Linked DNA regions of Homo sapiens: regions 1, 2 and 4 are each reported to be linked to region 3. Evidence: microRNA targets listed by miRTarBase, many of them from high-throughput screens and not tested one by one. Region 3 holds a microRNA gene; each other region holds the end of a gene's coding sequence.

Region 1 (7,026 bases), not on the chromosome of region 3:
CTCGCAGGCTAGCCAGGGACGTGCGCACCTTCGGGGCGCTCCACAGCCCTGGGACGACGCCACCAGGTTTCTTCTCTTCATTCACTCACCCACCCACCCACCCATCCATCCAACCGCAGCAAGCGCTGTTCTATGAGGCCACAACCTGACCCAAAGGACCCCGCCCCCATCGGCCGCCTAAACTCCAGAGCACGAGCAAGAAAGTGGAGGGCCACGGGCTGCAGCGTAGCCGAGTTTGAATACTGGTTCCATAGCTGGCTAGCTGTACGACCTCGGGCAAGTTATCACAAAACAGGGAGAATCCCGGCACCTAACTCGGAACGGTCACAGGCTGAGATGATATTACTGTGTGAAGTGCGCAGAGCGGTGTTGGGCACATGGTCATCGGAACTATGTTCGTTATTTTTATAAGTATCTTTAAGTGGGGGGAATCTGCTCCACTAGGCTTCCAGGTACCTACCGTCCAAGAAAGGAAGCCAGGAAGTGCAAACCAACATAATTACTATGAAAAACGTAGTTTCTAAGACCTGTGTAACTCTTCTAGTGTTCTATTACAAGTAGCCCCCAGTTATCTCTTGAAGGAAACTGTAAAACAATCTTGCCAATGAGAAGGACGGACCTGGATCATTTTTTAGCATAGTAAAAGAGAGAAACCAGAGAGAATGAATTCTAACACTCAAGTTTTGGGGGGAAAGAAAAGACTTTATTCTTTGCAGGGGGTTTAGAGCTTTACCTGAATTATCTCATTTAACCCTCACAATTCTCAAATCGTTTCATTATCATATTTTACAGATAAGAACTGAAGCGTGGCAAGATTAAGGAAGTTGCTCAACTTCACATAGTCAGAACATGACTCTAGGGAGTAGAGGCTAGCGAAGTGGGGTGCAAGAGGTCATCCAAATTTCTTGAAATACCAGATCTTTTTACCTCATCATATATGTTAGATTGTCAGTTTTATCGTTTTCTTCCCAGCTTTATTATTTGACAAAAAATTATATATATTCAAGGTGTACAATGTGATGACTGGATATAATTATACATTGTGTAATGATTACCAAAATCAAATTAAGTAAAACATCCTTCACTAATTTATGTAGTAGTTCGGTGGGGGGGCACTTAAGCAAATTTGTCTTAGCAAACTTCAAGTAAACAATACAGAATTATTAGCTATAGTCAACATGTTGTACATTAGATTCCCAGAACTTGTCTTAAAACTGAAAACTTGTACCATTTGAGAGAGAAGTTTTAGTGTTACTGAAATCACAGACTTCTGACAGAATTTGCAGGATGCTATACACAACTACACAAAAGTGCAAACAATAGTTTCTTGGACCAAGAGTCAAAAAGGTCACTTTTTTAATATATTAGTCAAGCAGACAGGGCTATACTTTATAAATAAATACACATTATCTGGGGATAAGTGTTTAAAAAATTCTTTACTCATATAATACAAAACAGGCTTGGGGATCAGTCTTGAAGCATGAATTTTTACCCAGTGGGCCATGTTGAGGGGGTTGCAGCACAGGCCCAGAAAGGAAAGCAGGCTGGGGCTCTGAGGGCTTGTGAGACGAGGACGCTGGGCTGAGAAGATAGGGCTTCACTAGGCGGAGGGCCCCAGGGTACCCCATACACAAGCCTGCCTTGGCTTCTCGTCCAATTTGGTGCATCTCACACTACACAGCCCTGCCCCACCCTGGTGTCAGCAGGCATTCAGAAAGCCTCACACTTCTGCTCCAGTGAACACTGCCAGGATAGCCCTCTGAACTTCCACCCACCCATCTTCTGCCCATTTGTTTTCTTTGTCTTCAATTCCACTGCTACCCATCCTACCCCAGTCCCTTAGCCTGACAAGGCCCAAGTGTCTCCACCCTGTGCTGCAGGGCAGTTAAGCAGGATCAGATGCCGTGCCAATGGCCTGCTCTGAGCTTTGGCCTCTCTCTGCAGTTGTATCTAATAGAACAAATACAGTAATTGTGGAGCTGAGCTTAAAATATTCAGACCTCAGGTTTCAGAGTCTGACTGGCATGGGTTTGACACCTGCCTCTTAGAAGCTCTACTTCTGGCCAGGCACGGTGGCTCACGCCTGTAATCCCTGCACTTTGGGAGGCCAAGGCAGGTGGATCACGAGGTCAGGGGTTTGAGACCAGCCTGACCAACATGGTGAAACCCCATCTCTACTAAAAATACAAAAATTAGCTGGGTGCAGTGGTGGGCGTCTGTAATCCCAGCTACTCAGGAGGCTGAGGCAGGAGAATTGCTTGAACCCAGGAGGCAAGGCTGCAGTGAGCCAAGATCGCACCACTGCACTCCATCCTGGGTGACAGAGCAAGACTGTCTCCAAAAAAAAAAAAAAAAAAAAAATTAGCCAGGCATGGTGGCGTGCACCTGTAGTCCCAGCTACTCAGAAGGCTGAGGCAAGAGAATCGCTTGAACCTGGGAGGCAGAGGTTGTGGTGAGCCAAGATCACGCCACTGCACTCCAGTCTGGGCAACAGAGTGAGACTCCGTCTCAAAAAAAAAAAAAAAAAAAAAAAAAAAAAAAAAAAGCTCTGCTTCCTTCTGGAAGTAACCTCTCTGAGGCTGTTTTGTCACCTGTAAAATGGGGATAATTTTGTTTATCCTAATTATCCCCATTTTACAGACTAGGAAAACAAGCATTGGAAGTGCCAATACTAAACTGAGGTGAACGCACAAAATAAGCAGCTTTTTCTCTCCACAGTTGGAAACACTGCCATTTGCCTTAAAAAGAAGTGTGTAAAAAACATTTTTTAATAGGAATAAAGCCAAGTAGTCTTAGCCACCACTGCCCTAAATGTAAGCAGAGACACCATTTTCTGCAGTGTGCATCAGGCACATACCACAGGTGTACAAAGAAGGAAATATACTGATGTTAGAATGAAAGTGTTGCCATCATTAAAGTTTTCAGTTGGCCAAGTCAACTGCCCTTCATACTTGCTCCCAACACTCACCTCCCCTCCTCCACTCATCATGACACAGATGTACATTCAGTACCTACCTGTATGTTCGTCCACACGTCTAATGACCGAACATGGCTGCATTTCACATACTTGACCCATGAAAGTAGGAGGCGTGCCCTCATGCATGAACCACTTTCCTTTTTTAACACAATCACAAACCTTTTCCACTTAAATGTTACTCATGGCTGTGAAACTGAATCCACATGTTCCTGGCACTTTGACTCACCTACCCTGGCCTTAAAGCGAGACCCTTTCCCTATCTTTTTACCTATAGATGTTATCCCTAGTGTCCTAATAGGGTTTAATCTATGATGGAGGATTTTAACAGATTTTATTAACCATGTGTCATATGCTGGGTGCTGTGGAGCAAGACTCAGTTAACTATATGTAAGCTCCCATCCTGACACACTTTATGAAATGAGAAAGGAGCTGAAAGATAATTCAAGAGAAGGGTATGAAACTGAAGAATGCCTTGTCATCAAAGGGCAGGAAGTACCTTAGCTGGGTTATCCCAGTCTGGCACCTGGTCCTCAGTCTTCAAGTTCAGAAACTCAGGTCATCATTTCCTAGGAACTGGGTGGATTCTGGGAGATTGCCTCACACCAACCAAACTCACAAGAGATTCAGTAATAAGCCAGAGTGCCATTTTTTTTCCTTCACAATGGAAAATGAACCTGATACTGCAGTTTATCTTAACAGAGCACACCTACACTATGGGGAAGTCTACTTAAGAGACCAAATGATAGATCAGAGGGTTGTCTGGTAAACTTAGATTCCCAAGTCAGCTGGAAACATACCTAGAGATAATCTCTTAGGGTAGAATAGTTGCCTGTGAGAAGTTTGCCCAAAGTACTGAAGCTTTATAGTTTGAATGAGTCATTTGCTAACCTGAGTCTCCAAACACCTTACTCTCGCCCTCACTTACAGAAATTAGAGATACAGGTATGGAAGTTAGTCCCACATGATAGTAAGATGCCAAAGAATCTGATATGGAGAGATGTCTGAAAGCAGAACTCTCAGAAACAAATTTAGTAAGAGGGGAGGAGGCAAAGTGTCCAAATAAGAAATATTCAAAGTGAAGGGAAAACCAAGGGTACAGTATCTCGAGAGCCAAAAGAAGGGTTAAGAAGAGATGGTCCACTATCAAATGTGACAGAAATAGATAACACTTTCCAAGTGGAAAATCACTTGTGACCTTTGAGAGTAGTTTAACAGAGCAACGAGAGTAGATGTCTGATTGCTAAATCATCTCTAACTCATTCTTCAGAGTTAAGTTTGCAACACAGCCGGACGCGGTAGCTCACGCCTGTAATCCTAGCACTTTGGGAGGCCAAGGCTGGCGGATTGCCTGAGCTCAGGAGTTCGAGACCAGCCTGGGCAACACGGTGAAACCCCGTCTCTACTAAAATACAAAAGAAATTAGCTGGGTGTGGCGGCGTGCGCCTGTAGTCCCCGCTACTCGGGAGGCTGAGGCAGAATTGCTTAAACCCGGGAGGCAAAGGTTGCAATAAGCCAAGATCACACCACTGCACTCCAGCCTGGGCAACAGCGCGAGACTCTGTCTCTACCAAAAAAAAAAAAAAAAAAAGTTTGCAACACAAAGCAATAAGGTTTGTGATAACATCTTAATCAATGAACTGGTCTTTATTGAACAAATACCCTGCAGTCTGCACCACAGGAGTCACCTTTTGTTTATGAGAGGCAGGAGACTACAGTGCAAAGAACACTGGCTGGGAAGTCCAGGGCCCAAGCAGCAGAGTGTTCACTGGTCCTTAACTTTCAGAAGAACTGCAGAGAGCCTCCTTTCTCTCTGGATGAATGTGTTTCAACATTTCTAACTGAGAGTAGGGCTAACTGATCAGGTACCCCCACTGGCTCTAACCTCACAGCTCTAGCATTTGCAGTTCCCTCTGCCAGGAAATCTCTTCCCCCAGATACCCACACAGCTCACTCCCTGACCTCCTCCTCAGCTTTGCCCAAATGTCAAATTATCACCTTCTTGTTCAGAAGATCTTCCCTACTCCCCATTTCCTTGCACAACCCAGCCCCATTCCCTGCTTTACATTCCTCCATGACACTAATCACCATCTGATGTACTGTTTTCCTGATCTGTTTATTGTCATTTTTCCCCACTAGACTTCAAGTTCCATGAAAGAGATTTATTTTGTCCTCTGTTCTGTGGTGTGCTTGGCATAAAGTAGATAAGCAAGCATCTGCTGAAGGAATGAATTAAATGCCAGCTGCAATCCCCAAATTACAGTAGATACACGGGAAAATTTTCTTTAGGAGGCTGAATTCTAACAGCATGATATCAAACAAGGATAGGGTCAATACAGAGGCCAGTGCTGTTTGAAAGTCATCATTTCAATGGTAACTCCTTCACTTGTGCTGGACTCGGTCTCCCCTCAGGAGACTCCTTTCCTGTTCAAAGTCAGTATTTTATATACTCAAAACCAACAACAAACTCCAGGTGTAACTTTATTCCACCTTCTCCAACTTCAGAGTTCCAACCTTAGAGGATAGAGCATTATGTGGAAGGAGGGTGAGGACTTGATATGAAAAAAGTGATGACATACCCCTGGTTCATTTCTGGGTTTCCTCCTAGGCCAATTCAAAACTTCCAAAATAAGGTCAAGTAACACAATAGGCTCACACTTGCATCACAAGCTGTTTAGAAAGTGTGCACAGATCTCTGACTCAGACCAGATGTCCTCCCCACCATGGGCAAGGGCTGGTGGGAAAGACACTCCCAGCCTTCGCCTTCATCCAATACTAATAAATAACCTACAGAAAGAGCAGCGCTGGAGGCTGGCCCTTGAGCCACCCACTGCTACCGTTGCGGAGCCAGGCCTGCCTCATAGCCCTCTGTCTTCATGTCATTGAGCCCTAGCTCCTCATTTTGGTCAAAGGTGCGCTTGTAACGCTCCACCTTCATCTCAGGATCATCTTCAGGCGCATACACATTCTGCAAGGTCAAGGAGAGACAATCAGTGCCGCTGTGCCACTCCCCCTCTCTGCAGGCAGCTTCCAATTCCCACCTTCCCAAGAACAGAATGAGTTTTGGGTTTTTTTCTTTTTATTGGCCTCCAATTTCCCATGGCTAGACTGAACTAGTGGGTAGCAACAGAGCCCACATGGGCCAGGGGTAGAAGACCCCAGCCCCAGAATCAGGGAACAATCCACCTATTTTGTTATATCTGCACCTTCTTATGAAAAGTATGACAAATGGTCTTAATCTTGGAAAGAACTTAGAAGAGTTTTGCCTGACCCATGGTAAGTATCCAATAAATGGTAAAGGTACATCAATCACCAGACTCTCTCCTCAGTCAACTTAAAGCCTATCAGTTTCCTATCTTGGCCTCCGGACAAGGTACCATTTCTCCTCAATCCATAATCAGATTTGCAAAATGAAAACTCCAGAACTGGGACAAGAGCTTGACTACAGAAAAAAAAGGGGCCTCAGAGTATCCTTTTTTTTTCCTTCTTTACATACACTTAAAAAAAAAATCCCCTCCCACACCCCCCTCTTTTCTCCCTTATGTATCTTCTAACTTCTGCCTCCTTGGTAAAAAGCAGTCCATTTAGAATCAAGTCTTTCAGTTTCTAGGGAAATGATACATATTCAAGGAAGATCAGAAAATGTATCTCTATGAAACATCAGGGAAGGTCTACTATACCTGCAAGTAACTGTTTCCTGCTGGATCATCCATAATAAAGTGGGCCTTCATGTTACCTTCGATGATCTAAAGGAGAGAGAGAACACAGCAAGTAAATTTTACATAACCCCTGGTAAAAAGAGGCTATGTCGGGGGAGGGGGGAGGGATAGCATTAGGAGATATACCTAATGTAAATGACTAGTTAATGGGTACAGCACACCAACATGGCACATGTATACATATGTAACAAACCTGCACGTTGTGCACATGTACCCTAGAACTTAAGTATAATAAATATATATATAAATAAAAAAAGAAATGAAATAAATGAAAGTAAAGAAAAATTTTTAAAAAAAGAGGCTATGCCTGCCAGACAAGAACCAACCCAATTT
Region 2 (7,133 bases), not on the chromosome of region 3:
TTTTGTAACCTCATACTCCTAAACATCATTGTAGACCTTGGTACAATTTTTGAATAAAGAAAAATGAGTGAAGAATGCAAATTAATGTATATATAGAAAAGGGAGGAAAAAATACTGATCAGCATTCAGCCAACATTTTTTGATCCACCATTGGGCCAGAACTGAAATAGCATGCCGTCGTCAAGCATCTGAGCTGGGGTGTAGAGGACAGAGGATAAGAGGATAAAAGATCTGGCATTTGAGGATTGAGGCAGGAACAAAGATCATGATGAACACGGAATGCCATGTAAAGGAAATTTTTTGTTTAAGGGATAACTTAGTCATTAAAGGTAATTAACATGGAGTGTTTTTCATTTAGAAGAAATAGTGTCTCCCATTCTAGAAGGGAAAGCACAGTTAAGGAGTCCATGAATGAAACTGTATGAAACTGACTTCAGTTTCATATGTATGAAACTGAATTCAGTATTTTAAGCAGTTATTTTAACTTTTTGCATTTATGTTTCTTTCCTTTTTCCATCTCAGGATCAAACACATATGAAGAGGCAGCTGCATATATTCAATGTCAGTTTGAAGACCTCAATAAAAGAAAGGACACAAAGGAAATATACACCCACTTCACATGTGCCACAGATACTAAGAATGTGCAGTTTGTTTTTGATGCTGTAACAGATGTCATCATAAAAAATAATCTAAAAGATTGTGGTCTCTTTTAAGTTTTGCAGTTCATGGTAAAATGCATTTTCAAACCAAATGAGTACTTATATATGGATCTCTGTAGACTAGAGTCTTGCAGCAACACAGAATGTAATATAAGGCAAATGCATCTGGGACTTGACCAAAGTTGTTCTGTTTTGTTTTTTTAACTGAAAGTAACAGAAGGACCTTTCTTAAATGTGACAGATGGTCCTGCAGTGTGAAACTGAAGGACAGTGTTAAAGCTGGGCTCTAGTATATTGATGATTTCTGCATAAGTGTAAATATGCAAATGTATGTATACATGTATTTATGACTTTAGTTTTCGACATTATTTTTAGGTTTTAAGAGTGGCAACTTAGGATTTTAGGGTGATGGCTTTGGAAATAACATAAATATACCTTGTACTGAATGACAGACTATTACTACGTTTGCCAGTTTTAAACAGCTTTATTTATGTTCATGTCCTGTAAATTTTTAAGTACAGTAATTAATATTAGGAAACATTACAGCCCTTATCTAGATTATATGTATACTTGTATTAATAAAAATGTTATTTGTACAAACATTGCACAGACTATTTTAATAACATGATTTGTTCTTTAAATTTTATGTGTTTTATTGAAATGTTCTTAAGATGAATACACCTGCCTTTGGATCAACTATTTAAACATTGTATGCATTTTGATTTTTCCTACTTTAAGAAAATAAAATAATTTAATTTTACATTAGATTCCACGTTAGATTTGGTTTGAAAAACTAAAATTTCAGATTTCTGAGGATATACTGTCTTAGACTTATTGTACACACTTAGTTTTTATTCACTTGTTTTCACTCTGAATTTTAATATTTGGCTGATATGAATGCATTGCCTCAAAGGTGATGTCATCTTAATTTTTATTCACTTTAAATAACTACATTTTTGTTTATAACTAAGTTTGGAGGGATCCTAAGAGCATTTTTGTGGGTAAAAAAAAAACCTGTGGACATAATGAATTTTGAGACATTGATTGGTGAGGCTTTTATTTCCCTTGAGGAGTCTCTTGTACCTAGCATACATGATAGCTCCTTGTTGGGAAGATAACAAGAAGGATCTTTGAATACTCTATTGCTGATATAATGCAAGATTTAAATTTATACATATAACTAATTTCAAATGTAATTATCACACTATGTTAAAATTACTTTTTTCCCTTAGATAATTCAAATTTCTCCACTTGCTTGAGATTATATCATTTCTTTTTCAATTATACTATTATTTCTGAGAATGAAATGGACGATTACACTTAGAAAATGAGTAATAGTGTTTAATAAGTCAGTGATTATATGTGTGCTCAAATAAGTGTTATGTATCAGCTAGATACTGAGCTTTGATAGAATAATTTTCTTTTGATTATTCATGATGTGTCATCTCTGACCTTGTTTCAGCAAAGTAAACAGCACTCCCCACCCCACCCTCCTTTTTTTACTCATCTTGGAAAAGGTTAGTCTTTCAGTACACGTTGCTGGTAAGTAGTTTCCAAGTTACGTGTTGTCACTGGGTTGAAGTATATTTGTGTGTGTGTGTGTGTGTGTGTGTGTGTGTGTAACCATAAACTATATTCATATCTGTTTCATTTGGAGGATTTTCTTCTTTGTAATGTAAAGAAATTCAAAGTTATCAAAGTTCCTTAAATGTGTTAGTTTAGATTCTTTATGTGCCTTTCATGAAAGATATGTTTTCATTAATTTTACTGGTGGACCTGTAATATCCACATTGTGAAGCTGTGTATGAAATTCAACTATAATATGAATAAATTTGAATCATGAGAATTATGGGTTAAAAAGCCACAAAGAAGCACATATTGGTGACCATCATTAATGAAATCCTGAACTTTATTCTGTGTAATTGTGTTAATAAATCCTAATAAATTTAAATTTTTAAAATTTTACAAACCTATTGGCTAAGTACATTTTGGATTAGAATTTAAGTATCAGTCTGTTGTTTCTTCATTTCTTCTTTTTCTATGCTCTTTTTACAATTTCAGCTACTCCAGAAGCTCAGATTTTCCCTGTTCCAAGCTATGAGATGTGATGCCACATTTGGAATTGCCTTCTTGATATCCCCTTCTGAGAATGCATTGCCTGCTTTTTAACTCATTATATTCAAAACTAAATTCATCATCATTCTCTCCTTACACCAGTTCTCACCCTGACTTTGCCATTTTTCCTTACTAAGTACCATCATCATTTATTCCTTCAATGGGGAACTTTTTAGTTTAAGTTCTGGGATACGTGTGCTGAACATGCAGGTTGGTTACATATGTATACATGTGCCATGGTGGTTTGCTGCACCTATCAACCTGTCATCTAAGTTTTAAGCCCTGCATGCATTAGGTGGAACTCTTCTGATTCCTAATCTCCATTTCAATTTACTGACAGTTCTACAAAGCCTTAAATCTGTTTTTTGTTTGTTTTCCTTTCTATTCCTACTACTACCTATTCAAGTCTTTGCTAAACTTCCTCTTAAAATGGCATTATTAGTTAAATTCCCCACCTCCCATTTCTCTCTTCTCGAAAAACCCAGGTTAGTTATCCTAATGTAGAACTGTGGCCCTATCACCTTCTATTCCTTGATCTGCATTGGCTCTGATTTGTCAATAAAATTAAGTATAAGTTAGCCTGCCATTTAATGCTCTTCATCACCTGAGGCCTGTTCCTTTCTACACTGTATCCAAATAGTGTCCTGTGCATAACCTGGGCTTTCCTCCAAGTACTGTATTACTTACTACATGTGATATGCTTAGAGCAGTGCCTACAATGTGGGAAGTGTTCATTTGTGTCTGTCAATGTTATTTTTATTAGCACTTTTAAAATGGTGTGTAAAATGTATTGGCACTTTTAAATTTGGCACTTTTAAATTTGTTTGTGATACCTCTTTTAGACTCCTCTGGCATCTGTTCTTCAGGGTGCCCTTCTGGGAACTACATGATTCTGATAGAGCTGCCAATCGCATTTCTTACTTCTCCGTCTCTAGGCTTAGACCTGACCAATCCGAGTCCTCCAGCATTGGACGAGTGAGCCAATCATTGTCCCAGTTGCCATTCTTAAAGTCCCTAAGGCGCTTGTGGTTTCTAAAATTCTCTTCATTTCAGTAACCTTCTAAAAGTCTACTTTTTTATGCCTAATCTAGTTTAATCGAATTCAGTTTGTTACTGAAAAAGTACTGATTAAAATCCATATGTTCTCATTGAATACTGACAGTAACTAGAGATCAAAAAAGGCTTAAAGAGGTTAATTAACTTGAGCAAGACCAGATGAAGGTTTTAAACCTAGAGCTTCTGACTCCATGTCTGTCAGAGGACCCCAAAGATGCTACCTTATTTCCAGAAAATGTGTAAGTAGTGTTTCGCCTATCCCCACTCTGCCCTTGAGTTCCTCTGAGCCATAATAGTTTTTCAGATTTAAAAAAGGAGATACTTATTAATGTCTTTCATCAGAGCTATTTTTTACTCCTTAGATGTGAAGCTACTTAAGAGCACAGTTACCATTTTTTACATCATTTGCCGTTTGCAGAACCACCTTATGTAAATGAATTTAGTTGATACTGTAATCATTATTACAGATGGTAGCATCATCATTGCTTAGTGTGTTATGTTGGAAGTAGAAAGTGATGGTGAAAATCCTAGGCTCTGGCACCCCGTCTGGCTTCAAATCCTGGCTCAATTTCTTATTAACTGGGAAAATCTGGGCAAATAATTTAGTTTTGCTCTGCCTCCATTTATATCATCTGAAAATAAATAAGGATTAAATAATCCATTAATTTTAATGGTTGTTGTCAGCATTAAATAAGTTCACAGTACATGTTAAGTACCTAGAGGGGAGTGTGGAATGTATAAGCCGTCAATACAATTTGCTGTTATTTGATTATAAATAATAGTTTTAAGGTGCCTTTAAAATCATAATCAGTGCTTAACAAATGGTTGTTGATACGTGCTTTGAATGAAATGCCTCAAAAACAAAACTCTCATAATTCGTTTTCATAATGAAAACTAAGTGTCTCACATATTGATACTGGAAAATGAGAAAATGCAATCTCTAATCAACTTGAGGACACTTCTGTCGTTTTAATGTAACCAATAGTATGAGAGAGTTTATATTTTAATGTTAGGTTGGAAATTTTCTTTTTTTTTTTTTTTTTTTTTTTTTGGTATGGAGTCTTGCTCCTTCACCAGGCTGGAGTGCAGTCGTGCAATCTCCACTCTCTGCAACCTCCAACTCCATGGTTCAAGCAATTGTCCTGCCTCAGCCTCCCGAGTAGCTGGGATTACAGGCATGCGCCACTACACCCAGCTAATTTTTGTATTTTTAGTAAAGGGGGGTTTCACCATGTTGGCCAGGATGGTCTTGATCACCTGACCTTGTGATCTGACCGCCTCGGCCTCCCAAAGTGCTGGGATTACAGACGTGAGCCACTGCGCCCAGCCAGTTTTCTTTTTTAGTTCTTTTCAAAACCCTTTCTTAACAGTTGAAATGCATTTATATAAAGAAGTTTACGTTTCACAATCCCACTGGCCTGTTTCCCAGGCATTTTTTTAAACCAATTACTGTTTGCTTTGGTGTCTGTTGTGATTTCTCTTATTTAGTTGGATTTTGTAGTTACTTTAAAAGTTACGAAATTTCACATTTCATCAAGTCCAGAGGCCAGAGACACCCAAATATGCACAGACAGGAATCAGCTGCAATTGTCCAAGCCAGAGCTGATTAGGCCTCAACTGGAATAGTCCCACCATGTAATAAATCTTCCTGAGTATTGTGTATAAGGTCAAATATTTCCAGCTTCTTTGATTTTACTGCCCGTCTTCCTAGGTCTCCATCCGTAAAGTGGATGGAAACACTGTCATTGAAGGAGCTAGTTCTTCAAATTTAATTTTTTTTTTTTTTTTTTTCCTGAGACAGAGTTTCGTTCTTGTTTCCCAGGCTGGAGCGCAATGGTGCGATCTCGGCTCACCGCAACATCCGCCTCCCGGGTACAAGCAATTCTCCTGCCTCAGGTTCCCGAGTAGCTGGGATTACAGGCATGCGACACTACACCCAACTAATCTTGTATTTTTAGTAGAGACGGGGTTTCTCCATGTCGGTCGGGCTGGTCTCGAACTCCTGACCTCAGGTAATCCGCCCACCTCGGCCGCCCAAAGTGCTGGGATTACAGGTGTGAGCCACCGCACCTGGCCAAAATATTTTTAATTGATTAAAAATGAGATAATTTGAGGAAACATGCATAGAATACTAGACAGAGACTATTTTAGCAGATAAGAGTGCCACTTTTAGTAAAAGAAGTTGTCACCTAGAAGAAAGTACAGGTGCTCCTTGACTTACCGTGGGTTAAGTCCTGAAAAGCCCACTGTAAGTTGATAATACCTTATTTTGAAAATGCATTTAATACACCTAACCTACCAAATGTAGCTTAGCCTGGCCTAACTTAAAGGTGCTCAGAACACTTAGATTAGCATACAGTTGGACAAGATAGCATAAAGCCTATTTTACAATAAAGGATATCTCATGTAATTTTCTTGGATACTGTACTGAAAATGAAAAACAGATTGATTGCATGGGTACTTGAAATATGGTTTCTAACTGAATGCATACCAGTTTCGCACCAATGTAAAGTTGAAAAATTGTTAAGTTGGACCATCATACGTTGGGGACCATCTGTACATAGAGTAGGACTCTTGAGAGCCTAAGGGCCACAGAAATTCCTTTTCCAACTGCAGTGTCTATGGAGGGATTCTTATAATTAATTTTATTCCTGTGCAAACACACTATCTGTGTATTCTCTATTTTACCAGGATTTTTTGTTTTTGCTAAATTAGACATACAATTTTGCAGTTATTTTTTACTAAGTTGACAAATGTTTGTACAATTTCAGTGTAAAGCTAGTCTTCAAAATAAACCACTGTGAAGATTGGATATTACCTTGGATTTTCTGTTGTGCACTCTTGAATTTTAATTATGTTCTGTGGAAACTTCACAGAGTTTTAGCTTTGATCCTTCCTTCACTTTTGAAAATCAAGAGTAAAGTTAAGTCAAAGCTACTTCTAAACAGCTCTATCTTTAATTTCTATTAAATAGTACTGAGGTATCAATTTTGTAGCTTGTGGAATGCGGACTATCCCAGCAGCAAATTCATTAATATGGTTTGTATAGGACTCACTTTGCAGCATTCAATTTTAGTATAACATGTTTTCCTGTTTACAAATATAAGTAATTACCTTTCCGTTTTAAGTGACCAATTGTCCTAGCAATCTACTTCACAAGGCAATTTACCTGTAATAAATATAACTTTTTTGCAGACTTGAGCATACGTTTAAACCATTTAACCATTCTTGAATTTCTTAACATAGTAAGTTACAAATTTTAACTATGAATCTTCTTCTTCGAAAGGAATCTTGTCTAAATCT
Region 3 (7,154 bases):
GGAAAACCTAGGAGCCATGTGTTGAAGATCACAGGGACACATGATAGACACATCTTGGGTCACCAAGTCCACACTAAAGAGGGGCAGCACCGTCCAGCAGCACTTGGTTCAAACTAACTCTGGGGAAAAATCAGTGAAATTGTGAGATATTGCCAATTCTGACTGATTTCCCTCACATTCTTGCAGTGGAAATCTAGGTCGGTGATTGATATTTTTGCCAAGGTCCTTCAGGCCACTGCCCCAGCCGCCTGGACTGACAAATACAAATGAGGAATGGAACCTATAAAAGGAAAAGAGATTTCTGGGAACTTTGCAGCCGGGATCCAGCTTCTAAGCTGTGGATGGAAACTTTCAATCAGAAGAAGGAGGTGCCTTATCCAGGGACCTAGGCACAGAGAGTTCCTTACTGCAGTGCCCCCCGACAAATCTGCCCTGACATGGCCGTATGTGGATAATGGTGATAGCACGGCACTGCTTTGATTCACTACAGTCTTTGTAAGACCAGGTAGGACCTACAGTGGTTAGAAGTCATGGTCATTTTTTTCCTGGCAACCACCAGCTGTTTCTATTTCCCCAGTACACTGTACAAATGTTATGCCTTTCTATTCATTCACTGACCAGGGCAAAGTTGGAGAGCACAGTTTCATTGAACCTGACCTCCCAGTTGATGGCTCTCAACTGAGCACAGCCCTTGGCTGAAAAGTACTGCCATGTTTAACGTAGCATCCCCTTCTGGAAACAGCATGCATTCAGCAACTAGTCTATGATTTGATAGATTCATCCCCAAACTCAAGGTGGGAAAACTCAGAACCCTCCCATTCCCCACTGTAGATCTCCTAATAGGATTAGCTGAGGTTTTTATTGCAAATGCATCACAGCTCACTTTCTCCCTTTCCTGGTCTTACTTCCTTCCCAGTGCTATAAGAACAGACACCAAGAACCCATTTCAAATTCGTGCAGCAAAGCTGTTTTATAGCCTGCATCCCAGAGAGTCCTACTTAAGCAGACAGGAAGCACAAATGGACTGGAGTAGGGGGTTTAAATACAGGAGCTGAAAGTAGCATCAGGCATGACCTGGCCCTGTCAATTACTAGCTGTGTGCTTTTGTGCCAAGTCATTTAACCTCGGTATGCCTCAGTTTCCACGACTGCAAAATAGAAATATTAATAGCACCTAGTTAATTGAATTATGAAGATTACATGATATAACAACAAAAAATAAAGTAAAAATGTCCTGGTCCATAGCAAGAAGTATAATTGCTTAATTAAATGAATTAATAAAATAGAGCAGAAGAGATCTGTTTTTTCTGTCCTGCTTTGTCCTCTGTCTCTCATCTCTCTTTGCCTCGGGGAAAATTCATTTTCTATTTCTATTTATACTTTTATATCGTTAGCCCTTGATATTCAGTTAATATCTTTATATTATACTTTCCTTTGATTACCATGAAAGGCAGAACATAGAGGGGGGAAAAACCTTGCTATTGAAATATTCCTCCTAAAAGATACAATAAAAAGCATTTATTCACGAAGTTCAGAATACCACTCTTTATAAATTATTTCTTTGTCTCTTTTTTCCATAGACATATAAAGAACACTAATGCTATAGGAAAAGAATCAACATGCATTTCTTCTTCACCACTGAAAAATAACCCAATAATGTGTCATGAATCTAAAAATGACCATGTCTTTCATTTGCATTAGTTCTCAATGAGGAGCAATTTTGCCACCCCACTCCAAGGGAACATTGGGCAATAGCTGGAGACAATTTGAGCTGTTGGACTGGGGGAAGGTGCTAGAGGCCAGGGATTTTGCTCAACATTCTACAATGCATGGGACAGTCCCCTTACAATAAAGAGCTATCCTACCCCAAAGGTCAACAGTGCCAAGGTTGAGAAACTCTGACCTACATGGAGCATCTGCATAGTTTATGTTTACTCCCTATGAATTCTTAAGAAATTTATTCACTTTGATGACTATCTTTTAAAAATGAGAAGATATGCTGACAACATATTGAACATGATTATGTCAGAATTTTCATTATCAAAGTGCTAATGGCTCCAGTCTGATGTCAATATTGCCTTCTGTCTAGCTGAACAGGTTTTTCTGTCTTTTTCCTTTCCTTAAATGCAAGGTAACCCCTTAAATTGTAGATTCTTATCTGCTATGTGCTGTGCAAGCAGAGATTTGAGTTGATTTGAATCACATGGACACACAAGTTGGAATGGATAGAGAACCTCGCTTGACTTGATAGTGTTGTATGTACAGTCTGAAATGTCAAGAAAATCTGAAATGTCAAGAATATAAATACTTTCAAAAGACAAGCATCAAAAGCCTTCTTATCACCTCTTTTATAACGCCAATCATGTATTGCCACATTTGAGCTGTTATGATGTGATATGGCTGAATGGAAAAGACACTGGCAATGTTCTAACTTGCTCAGAGGTCATATATAAAACCTTCGTGGATGCTCTGGACTCATCCTTGAGACAGGACATCCTATGGTGTCCCTGGGCATTATTAGCTTCACAAAATTACCCTAAGACTCAATAATTATTTTGCACTCTGTCTTAAGATAGGGCCATCCTATCTCAGAAGATATTATCAACTAGCCTATCCCAGATCACCTAGGTATTACACCCCGCATGCATTAGCTATTTATCCTGATGTTTTTCCTCCCCTTGCACCCCCAACAGGCTCCAATGTGTGTTGCTCCCCTCCCTGTGTCAATGTGTTCTCCTTGTTCAGTTCAATTCTTATTTTATCTTGATTTTTTGTTTAATCTAAGAGAAGCCAGTCAAGGACTTTAAGCAAGAGCATGATATCCCTGGGCATTATTTGTTTCATAAAATTATCCTAAGACTCAGTAATTCTTCTCGACTCAGTGTTGAAAGTATGCTCTTAGGGCATACTTAGGCATGCCCCAAGTTATCCTAAGAATCAACAATTCTTTTGGTTTCTGTCTTCTCTATTATAAGCTGGGTGTCTAAGAGATAGACAGTATATGGTGGTAGAGGCACAGGATACACTGGTGCCAGGAAAAGCAGGCACAGGAATTTCATCTATGATGGTAGAATTTGGGGAGACTGATGAGTCCTTAATCAAATTAGATCATAGCATTTTGTAGGTGAAGAAAATGAGATGCATCTACCCTTTTCTCTTTCAGTCAAAATTTAATAGTTCAATTCTAATACGAATTTTAATTTAATTTTATGTTGTGGGATACATGTGCAGGACATGCAGGTTTGTTTCATAGGTAAACCTGTGCCACGGTGGTTTGCTGCACCTATCAACCCATCACCTAGGTATTACACTCCGCATGCATTAGCTATTTATCCTGATGCTCTTCCTCCCCTGGTGCCTCCAACAGGCTCCAATATGTGTTGTTCCCCTCCCTGTGTCCATGTGTTCTCAGTGTTCAGTTCAATTCTTATCTTGATTTTTTTTTAATCTAAGAGAAGCCAGTCAAGGCCTTTAACAAGAAGTGGGCAGCAGTGGAAGATGGGTAACTCGACTTGATTTTTATTTTCCAAGAATATGGTAACAACCCTATGAAGAAAAGTTGGAGGAAAACAGGACTGGAGGTGGGGAGATCTGTTATATATTCATTAGAGTAATCCAAATAAGAAGCGATGGAGACTCAAACTCAAGTAGTTGCAGCAGTAGTGGAGAAGAAATAGATTGGGCAGTTATTATAGAATTAAAATGTATAGGTCTTGGCAATCAGTCAAATGTAGAAAGTGGAGAAAAAGAATGGATATGGAATGTGAGGAGGACATGAGGCTGAGACTGGCTGAACAGGCAAGATGTAATGCCACTTATTAATCAATAGAAATTAGAATCAGCCTAAGGACTGAAGGGAAAATGACAAGTTGAATGGAGATGTTGATGCAGAGGTGACTATGGAACCCCTCAGCAAAGATAATGGAAAATGCAATTCAACAAGCAGCTTTGCTACTTAGAAGAAATGACTTTCAAAGTTCCTATCCCAGACATCAGTATTGTCATCAATAAAACCAAAAGGTATTAATTTACTCGTCAAGGTCTCAAACCATTATAGACTAAGACTGGTTTCTTGACTTGGCTACAACTCTACACAAAATAGCTAGTGTTACATTTACAGAAATATTAAGAAAATATAGGTATATGCATTAAACTCAATTTCCCCTTCATATTCTGGATGTATTTGAGATTGCCATATATCTACATAGTTTTAAATATTTAAACCTAAGTAACTATTTAATATTCAATAAATGTGTCACATTTTATCTTGTCTTATATCAGATGTTTTGCTGTTAGTTTCTTGCATTTTATCATTAATGTAATTCATTTTCACAGAGTAATGCCTACATTCATAAAAAGAAAAATCACTACTTGAAAGACTTGATGTTGTCATGTTTGTTGAAGAATGTTCCTGAGACAATCTTGGAAATGTGAGTGAGAAGTGGGATTTGGCAGAATCTGGAAAGTTGGTCTTCAATCTGATTGTAATCCACTTGGAAAGAAGAACATCAACCAGTGAAAGACTTAATGCATCTGCATGAATGTAAATCAATCAAATAGATATTTAAGAAACTTGTTCCTTTGCTGCCATTTCAAAAGTCAATACCATGTAATATTCTAGAACAGGTCATGACAAAGTTCAACATAAAAGGAAATAACGTTTTACTAAATGCATAAAGATTTATATAATTTAAGGCTTTTGCAAACGTATAGTTTTCACAGTGATGACCTGCATATTATAGATTTGTGAAATTTTAAGTTTTAATGTAATCACAAATCTATAACATACAAGTCATCATTGTGCTTTTCAGCACTAAGAAATCTATTCTTCCACTGATGTGTGAAAGATTTAAGTGACCAGACACTCCTAACAGTAATAGCTTTGCTCTTTTTCCCTCATGCATCTGTACCAGATATTATTGCCCAGAGGACTCTGAGCAGTGTTTCTGTGTATATTTAAGAATTAAACGGTAAAATTCTACTAAATCATAATGCCAACATGATAAAATATCTGCAGTAATCATGTCCATCAGATAATGACAATAAAACATTATTATTCCATTAAAACTAAGGAGAGAAATCAACTAAAATTTGTATGCAGGAGTATTAGTTCTTACACATTTTTAAGAAACATTTGTTTACAAGTGCTGGTAATTTTTAAAAAGTTAACTAAACTGCTTAAATTGTATTAGTAACAATTTCAGGTTTACTAAATTGTTTATAAGCACCGCAGCTCTATCATTTTTAACCTTGGGTTGTAAATATATAATATAATATAAACATGTAAGTGTGTTTGTATGTATGTCTGCTCAGGTGATAAAAAATAAAAAAGTAAACAAGAAAAAAAGTCACTTAACCATTTCTATATAAAGCAGTAATGTCAACTGAACATCAGGATAAAATCAAGCAACAAGAAGACAGACTGTCACATAGGATATGTGTTATTTGTATCTAGAGAGAGTATATTCCCTTCAAATCTCTTTGGGATGACAACTTCAGTCATCCCTAGAGAACACAGATTTCACAGCACCAAAACTTCTGCTGCCAGAGTGTGTGACGTGGAGGCAGCTCCATGTACTAGAGGAGAACTTGCCTACTGCAAGGTGCACTCCTGCCCATCCCTCCATGCCAACACACTGGGTCACTGTCTCTCATGTCAGTGAGAACTGCTTAAGAATAAACCCTCTGAGGACAGCATGATTCTCCTCTGCATGGAGAAAACTAGGTTCTGCTGTCCAGAATTATGTCCACAGAATATCCCTGGTTCCTCCAACATTAAAGGGCCTAGTTGAACTCTAGAAAAGAAAAAAAAGCAATCTTTTAATCCAATCTGCTACCTTCCACCAAAAGACAACTGAGAATGATAGCAGGGAAGAAGAGGGGAAAATACCTGTAATATACTCAAAACTCTTGATGGGAAGCCAGTATCGTGCAAGGCATGCAACATATTTTAAATCTATAACCACATTTAACCTTCATAAAAACACAGTGAGATGGGCATCCTCTCCATTTTCCACACGATGAAAACTAAAGCTATCAAAGTTAAGTAGCATATCCTGTTTATACAGCTAACTCAGGGCCAGGGCAAACTCAAACTTTAGATCATCTGGCACCAGAGCCCATGTCCTTTAAGTTTCATTGTTTTGCCAACACGTCAAGTGATTTTTTTAAATTTTAAAATAATATTATGTATTTTGACTTGAGTATATTACTCAAAACAGAGCCTTGTATGTGGGATAGTGTAAAATTCCTGCTTGTTTTAATATTTTTATGCACATTAACATTTGGGAAAAACAGCCCTTGCCACTTTGTCTCCATATTTGTTGCCTACAGATGACCTGAATAAATTTAACTCTCTACTTTCTTCAAGTGTGAAGCCATCAGCACTGCTAATAAGTGATGAGCATGGCAGATAGTCCCTTCTGTCAACAGCAAGCTGCTTAAATTAAAACCACTCATTTCCATCTGAGGCCACCCTCATCCACGTGGGATATTCAGCTTTCTCTCTCAGCCAGGTTTTCAGACTCAAACCTGCAAGTCACTTGCATTGATTTTGTCTTGTTTGCCAATTTACATGTAACTTTGGCCCTGGACTTCCAGTAATGACAACAACATTATGCTTTGATGCTATCCATTTTCTTGATTTATGTGGGAATACTTTTCTGATTGTCTCTAAGACTCATTATATAAGGTGTGTGTAGCCCAGTCAATTGGCAAGGGTACCAAGATATCAATGGGATTGCAGAGTTTTCCTTCTCTGGTTATTCCCTGCAAGTGATGAAAAAAAAATATGCATTTTCTCCTAGTGCTCTTTCCTAAAATTCCAAGTGAAATATAAAATACTTTCATTTGTTTTTGCCAACTTAGATTTATGGACTCTGCTCGAGCTCCAAACAAAATTTTAATTTGGTCTAATCTTTATTTCCTAGGTTTTTATTAACCAACTATATGTCTGAGATAATTTTATAGCTAATTATTATAGTTAGGGGAAGAACACAACAATAAAAAAAACCCAGTCATCTCATTTAGACACCAAGATCTGCCAAGAAATATTTTACTAAAAGCAATAACTTGTGGTTAATATCACTAACAGTCCTGGTAAATAAAAAGATATGCAGGAATTACATGAAGAGGATACTATAATAGCAATGATTC
Region 4 (7,135 bases), not on the chromosome of region 3:
CTCCGTCATCGGGTTCTGGGGACCCCTCTCACCTCCGCGGTGAGAGATGTGTTTACTGAGGAATCGCTGCTTCTTTCTCTGGTGCAGCAAGGTCGGGTATTTAAGCAACAAGAATGAGGTCACCAAGTATCCTCCTAGCGTAGAGAGAAGGTAAAAAGCCGCAGTGGACGACATCTCAGTCACCGTGTGGGAAGTCTCCCACCTCCGGGCCCTCTGAACTCCGCTGCGGCAGTAGCAACGACGGCGGCGGCGGCGGCTGCTCGAGGTCGGCTCGCCCCCAGCCGGTGCCACTGGTGCAGCGCACTTGTCGGTGCCGGCCTACTGCGCACGCGCAGCTGGACCCCAGCGCCCCAGCAACAAAGAGGCTCCGACGCGCAGGCGCTCTCCGGCTCCCGTGTAGGAACCTGCAGAGATCCTGGACTGAGCGTTTGTCACCTAGCTCTGTGGACGGACCCTCATGAAGAGAAAGCTTGCAAACCTGCCAGTGTGTTGGCCATCACTCAAGCAGAAAAGACTATTCACGGGCAGCCTTTCCTAATTGGAAAATCCACATCAAAAAGGAAAGATTCCAGGGCGCGTCTTATCCCTTGCTCTAGAAAATGCAAATAATTTGTACCTATGGAGGCGATAAAGCTTGCTAAAACACTAAATAAACTCCTCCGTTTATCTAGCCTAGAGAGAATTTCCCCTATGGTCGCATATACTAGAAAAGGTACTGGTTTATCAGTCAAATATCTGAGAGATCGGCCCCTGTCCTCCCTCATTTCATTGTGAAAGTGCAATCCTCATTCTTTGTACACAATAGGCACTGTAGAAGTATTTGTTGACTTACAAGTCCGTATAAAATAAGGAAACTTTGTTAAGGTTATAAGGTATTACCTAAAAGTCCTAGAAAGACAGATAACTAAGTTCCAGAAGGCCCTACTAGTTTTCCTTTTACCCGACAAATTACAAACTGCTAACACACGAAAAGCCACACACTTCAATGCAAAAGAAATAAATCACCCAGGACTGAGGGAGAAATTTTACGGAGAAGACCATATCTCCCACAGGACTAGAAAAGCAGAGTGAATATTTAAAATCCTGATTCAGCCGGGCGCGGTGGCCCACGCCTGTAATCCCAGCACTTAGGGAGGCCGGGAAGGAAGGGTGGATCGCTTGAGCCCGGGAGTTCGAGACCAGCCTGGGCAACATGGCGAAACCCCATCTCTACAAAAAATAAAACAAAATAAGCCCGGCGTGGTGGCGTGCACCTGTAGTCACGCTACTTGGGAGGCTGAAGTGGGAGTATTGCTTGAGCCTGGAAAATCGAGGCTGCAGTGAGCTATGACTGCACCACTGCACCCCAGCCTGGGCGACAGAGCAAGACCCTATCTCAACTATAAAAAGAAAATTAGAAGAAAATAGGGGGTGGCTGGGCACGGTGGCTCAAGCCTGTAATCCCAGCACTTTGGGAGGCTGAGGCGGGCAGATCATTTGAAGTCAGGAGCCTGGCCAACATGGCGAAATTCCATCTCTACTAAAAATACAAAAATTTGCCAGGGGTGGTGGCGTGTGCCTGTGATCCCAGCTACTCAGGAGGCCGAGGCAGGAGAATCTCTTGGACCCGGGAGGCAGAGGTTGCAATGAGCCGAGAAGGCGCCACTGCACTCCAGCCTGGGTGACAGAGCGAGACTCCGTCTCAAAAAAAAAAAAAAAAAAAAAAAAAAAAAAAAAAAAAAAAATTCCTTTAGTCGAGGTTGAAGTGAGCCTTGATGGTGCCACTGCACTCCAGCCTGGGCAACAGAGCAACATTCTGAGGAAACTTACAGGTTAAAAAATCATGTGTTCTGTTTAGGGCTGTTAAACTATTTCCTGTAGATCAACTGACGCACATAGTTCTATTTTTCAAAATATCACCTGATGACTATGGAAGCGTCTAGAATAAACCACTGTGGCATAAAAATTATTTTGAGGCTGGGCATGGTGGCTCACGCCTGTAATCCCAGCACTTTGGGAGGCTGAGACAGGCAGATCACCTGAGGTCGGGAGTTCGAGACTAGCCTGGCCATCATGGTGAAACCCCGTATCTACTAAAAATACAAAAATAAGCCAGGCATAGTGGTGCATGCCTGTAGTCCCAGCTACTAGGGAGGCTGAGGCAGGAGAATGGCTTGAACCTGGGAGGCGGAGCTTGCAGTGAGCCAAGATCATGCCACGGCACCCCAGCCTGGGCGACAGAGCAAGACTCTGTCTCTTAAAAAATATATATATATTGAGCTGAAGGCATTTAAGTTCCTGGAATCCCTTATCAACCTAAAATCAAAGGCTCCCAGAAGAACTTAACTGTCATAAATCTCCTCCCTGGGAACAATTCTAATCCTGTCAGAGATGAGAGACATTGTCACAAAAGTATGACATCTCATGGGTATTCTCCTAAGGACACATTTATGTTTCCAAAAAATCATTTCTTTTTCCAAAAAGTGCTTTCTCCCCAGCTTCTAAGAAGTCATTTGTTCTTCTGGAAGTACCCCCTACCCCTTCCCACCCGTAAATTTTAGATTATATATAAACCTCAAATTCTAACCGCTTTTTTTTTTTTTTTAGACAGAGTCTCACTCTGTGGTCCAGGCTGGAGTTCAGCAGTGCCATCTCGGCTCACTGCATCCTCTGCCTCCCCGGGGGTTCAAGTGATTCTCCTGCCTCAGCCTCCTGAGTAGCTGGGGCTACAGATGCGCACCACCGCGCCTGGCTAATATTGTGTGTGTGTATATTTTTCTTTTCTTTTCTTTTCTTTTTGAAAAGGAGTTTCGCTCTTGTTGTCTAGGCTGGAGTGCAATGGCACGATTTCAGCTCACCACAACCTCTGCCTCCCGGGTTCCAGCGATTCTTCTGCCTCAGCCTCCCGAGTAGCTGGGATTACAGGCATGCATCACCTGGCCCGGCTAATAGTAGAGACAGGGTTTCGCCATGTTGGTCAGGCTGGTCTCGAACTCCCGACCTCAGATGATCCACCTGCCTCGGCCTCCCAAAGTGCTGGGATTACAGGCATGAGTCACTGGGCCCGGCTAATTTTGTACTTTTAGTAGAGATGGGGTTTCACCATGTTGGCCAGACTGGTCTTGAACTCCTGACCTCAAGTGATCTGCCCACCTTGGCCTCCCAAAGTCCTGGGATTACAGGTTCATTCTTATATTTTCTAAGAAGACAGAACAACAGGAAAAGTATGAATTCAAAGTCAGAGTTCTGAATTCTTTTATTATTTTATATAATTTTCTTTTAATGAAGGCGAGAGAAGAAAGAGGAGCATTTACTTTTTTTTTTTTTTTTTGAGATGGAGTCTCACTCTGTTACCCAGGCTGGAGTGCAGTGGCGCAATCTTGGCTCACTGCAACCTCTGCCTCCTGGGTCCAAGTGATTCTCCTGCCTCAGCCTCCCAAGTAGCTGGGATCACAGGAGCACGCCACCAGGCCTGGCTAATTTTTGTATTTTTAGTAGAGACGGGGTTTCACTATGTTGGTCAGGCTGGTCTCGATCTCCTGCCTCGGCCTCCCAAAGTGCTAGGATTACAGGTGTAAGCCACCGCACCCAGCCTATGTATATTTTTAAATTAAAAAACAATGGCTTTAAATGTAGCAAGATGTGTTAAATACATATTTCCTATATATTGAGACTAAAATCTACAATTCTATTTGTCCAACGTTTCAAAATTAGTGTGTCTATGGAAATGTAATCAATTACACAAGAGTTTAGGTATGTTAACTTAATTTGTACTTACCTAATTGGTGATATATCACAATATACCACTATATTGCCATCTGATTGGTGATAACAACTAGATGGTGATAAAAATTAGATGGTGATATAGTGGCATATTGTCATGTGGATGCTGGTGAAAGTTACCATAGATTGGTAAGAATTTTTTTTTTTTTTTTTTTTTTTTTTTGAGACGAAGCCTCACTCTGTCACCAGGCTGGAATGCAGTGGCGCAATCTTGGCTCACTGCAACTTCCGCCTCCCGGATTCAAGTGATTCTCCTGCCTCAGCCTCCCGAGTAGCTGGGACTACAGGGGTGTGCCACTACACCCAGCTAGGTTTTGTATTTTTAGTAGAGATGCGGTTTCACCATGTTGGCCAGGATGGTCTCGATCCCTTGACCTCATGATCCACCTGCCTCGGCCTCCCAAAGTGCTGGGATTACAGGCATGGGCCACTGCACCTGGCCCAAGATCTTTTTTTTTTTAGACAGGGTCTTGCTCTGTTGGGGTGGTATGATCACAGCTCACTGCAGCCTAGACCCACTGGGGTCAAGCCATCCTCCCACCTCAGCCTCCTGAGTAGCTGGGACTACAGGCATGCACCACCACATCTTTATCTTTTTTTTTTTTCTTTGTAGAGACAAGGTCTCACTATGTCTTCCAGGCTGGTCTTAAGGGATCCTCCTGCCACCTAAACCTCCTAAAGTGCTGCAATTAAAGGCATGAGCCATTGTGCCCAGCCTGATTGATAAGATTTGGATCACTTAGCAAATTGTTTCACAGTACAGGAATTTTTAAAGAATAGTCTGCATTGACCAGGCAAGGTGGCTCACGCCTGTAATCCCAAGACTTTGGGAGGCCAAGGCAGGTGGATCACCTGAGGTCAGGAGTTCAAGACCAGCCTGGGCAACTTGGCAAAATCCCACCTCTACTAAAAATACAAAAATTAGCTAGGCGTCATGGCACGTGCCCATAATCCCGGCTACTCAGGAGGCTGAGGCAGGAGAATCACTTGAACCCAGGAGGCGGAGGCTGCAATGAGCCAAGATCCCGCCACTGCACTCCAGCCTGGGTGACAGAGTGAGACTCCGTCTCAAAAAAAAAAAAAAAAGAATAGTTCGCATTAATATACTGGATTAAAAAGTTTAGTTTAGATAATATTCGTTTAAATTATGGTATCTCATCAGGCCAAGATAAGAACAAAACCGTTTAACTAAAGTACCAGAATTGTGAGTCAACCAATTGTGCTTTTTTTGGAATTAAATCAAGTATCTTCATATTATTACCAGATAACCTAATGTATCAACTTGTTTAGAAGATAATTTCAAGACTAGTATCTTAAAAAAAATCCCAGCTAGGCTGGGCTTGGTAGTTCATGCCTGTAATCCCAGCACTTTGGGAGGACAAGGTGGGCGGATCACCTCCTGAGGTCAGGAGTTCGAGACCAGCCTGGCCAAGGTGGAGAAACCGTCTCTACTAAAAGTACAAAATTAGCCAGGCGTGGAGGCGCATGCCTATAATCCCAGCTATTTGGGAGGCTGAGGCAGGAGAATGGCTTGAACCTGGGAGGCGAAGTCCACGGTGAGCCGTGATTGCACCATTCCACTGCAGCCTGGGCAACAAGAGTGAAACTCTGTCTCAAAAAAAAAAAAAAAAAAAAAAAAAAAAAAAAAAAAACCAGCTAAAACATTATTTTAACAAAAACAAAATTTTGGCTCAACATGGTTATGCAACATTCAGTTATAATAGAAACATGTTTAATTATGGAGAGTAAAACAGAAACGAGAAAAAACAGGTATCATCCATGTATTTTATATTCTTTTCTAGAACAACCAATCTTTATTAGAAAGTTGTAGTCACGTTTACAATAAATATCAACAATATAATGAAAAAGTAGAACAAATTAGTTTCCAAATACTGAACTCCTGTAACCAAAACACATTTTGGATTTGGGAAAACACAGTAAACACATACCAAAAACACAGCCACAAATACCAAAAACAAAAACCAGCTCAAGTATAGGATTGAACTGGCTGGAAAACACTTATTGTGTTACTGCCTTAAGAACCCCACGGAGCACCTTGTAGCTCATTAACTGCACATTTTCCTTAGGGGGGAAACAAGGTCCTCTCTCAGTCACATATGCATAAGGAAATCTCAAAACCCAAAGGCCATCAGGTGGAAGGGTGATTTCTTGTTTTTCTGGGTAGAATACCGGACATGGTGGTGGGCCTGGCTGAACCTGAAAAACACAGGTAGTATAATTATTTTCACATTTCTCAATATGAAACAACTGAAAGATAAATGCCTAAACAGACGATAGGTTCAAAGAACATACAAGGCCAGACCTGGTGGCTCACGCCTGTAATTCCAGCACTTTGGGAGGCTGAGGCAGGTGAATCACGAGGTCAGGAGTTCGAGACCAGCCTGGCCAACATGGAGAAACCCCATGTCTACTAAAAATACAAAAAATTAGTCAGGTGTGGTGGCGTGTGCCTGTAATCTGTTACTGGGGAGGCTGGGGCAGGAGAACAGCTTGAACCCAGGAGGCGGAGGTGCAGTGAGCTGAGATTGCACCACTGCCCTCCAGCCTGTGCAACAGAGCGAGACTGTCTCAAAAAAACAAACAAATAAATAAATAAAAGAATATATAAGATTAAGCAGATATGGGTACACTCCTAACTCTAATTGTATCCAATAGTATATTATTTAGTCTCAAATATTATTCTGCTTTTCCCCAGAACTTTTTTTTTTGCAGGGGGAATGGAGTCTTTCTTAGTCACCCAGGCTGGAGTGCAATGGCGCGATCTCGGCTCACTGCAACCTCCGCTTACAGGTTGATTCAAGTGATTCTCCTGCCTCAGCCTCCCAAGTAGCTGGGATTACAGGCGCCTTCCACCACGCCTGGCTAATTTTTTGTATTTTTAGTAGAGACGGGGTTTCGCCATGTTGCCCAGGCTTGTCTCGAACTCCTGACTTCAGGTGATCCGCCTGCCTTGGCCTCCCAAAGTGCTGGAAATACAGGCGTGACTCACTGTACCCGGCCTTTTCTCCAGAATTTTAACTTCAAGTTCTGCCTTTGAATGAAATGATGTGAATTGATAGCATGAACGGATTAAAATACCCACAATGTATTTTTTAAAAAACAGAATATTAGGTATGGAAGGTATTTAAATTTAAGACCTGTTTAATTAAATAATTCGTTTTTTAATTTAATTTTTTGTAGAGATACAAGTCTCACTATGTTGCTCAGGCTGGTCTTAAACTCCTGGGCTCAAGCAATCCTCCCACCTTGGCCTCCCAAAGTTCTGGGATTACAAGCATGAGCCACTGCCCTCAGCCTGAAATAATTAGTTTTGAGGCTAACTTGTACTTTTTAAAATCAATCAAAACAAACA

What was found. Region 3 holds the annotated microRNA hsa-miR-4719 (UCACAAAUCUAUAAUAUGCAGG, at 4,728-4,749, opposite strand). A microRNA usually pairs through its seed, bases 2 to 8, with sites in the 3' UTR of a target mRNA and lowers its output. Matches are read on the target gene's strand: a 7mer-m8 pairs with bases 2 to 8, a 7mer-A1 pairs with bases 2 to 7 and ends in A, and an 8mer does both.
Region 1: miRTarBase lists ZPR1 as a target of hsa-miR-4719. Seed matches in the 3' UTR shown: 7mer-A1 at 3,129-3,135.
Region 2: the mRNA of GNAI1 is a reported target of hsa-miR-4719. Seed matches in the 3' UTR shown: 7mer-m8 at 2,245-2,251, 7mer-m8 at 3,508-3,514 and 7mer-A1 at 3,598-3,604.
Region 4: the mRNA of SMG8 is a reported target of hsa-miR-4719. Seed matches in the 3' UTR shown: 7mer-m8 at 5,724-5,730.

What each region holds. Positions count from the first base shown.
Region 1 is chr11:116,773,118-116,780,143 of GRCh38, forward strand. ZPR1 (ZPR1 zinc finger) reads right to left here. Exons shown (of 14, transcript NM_003904.5): 13 at 6,655-6,720; 14 at 682-5,942. The coding sequence ends at 5,808. It overlaps BUD13-DT (BUD13 divergent transcript), which reads left to right and starts at 354. Exons shown (of 2, transcript NR_186226.1): 1 at 354-394; 2 at 793-1,088. RefSeq lists a silencer at 9-208 and enhancers at 329-418, 1,782-1,951.
Region 2 is chr7:80,216,781-80,223,913 of GRCh38, forward strand. It overlaps GNAI1 (G protein subunit alpha i1), which reads left to right. Exons shown (of 8, transcript NM_002069.6): 8 at 523-7,133. The coding sequence ends at 713. Among named protein-coding and RNA genes, the nearest start is that of GNAI1, 86 kb to the left of the region's middle.
Region 3 is chr16:76,866,583-76,873,736 of GRCh38, reverse strand. MIR4719 (microRNA 4719) reads right to left here and starts at 4,801; the gene lies at 4,718-4,801.
Region 4 is chr17:59,213,649-59,220,783 of GRCh38, reverse strand. SMG8 (SMG8 nonsense mediated mRNA decay factor) reads right to left here. Exons shown (of 4, transcript NM_018149.7): 4 at 5,554-5,979. The coding sequence ends at 5,782. GDPD1 (glycerophosphodiester phosphodiesterase domain containing 1) reads right to left here and starts at 273. Exons shown (of 10, transcript NM_182569.4): 1 at 33-273. The coding sequence starts at 174. RefSeq lists an enhancer at 1-247.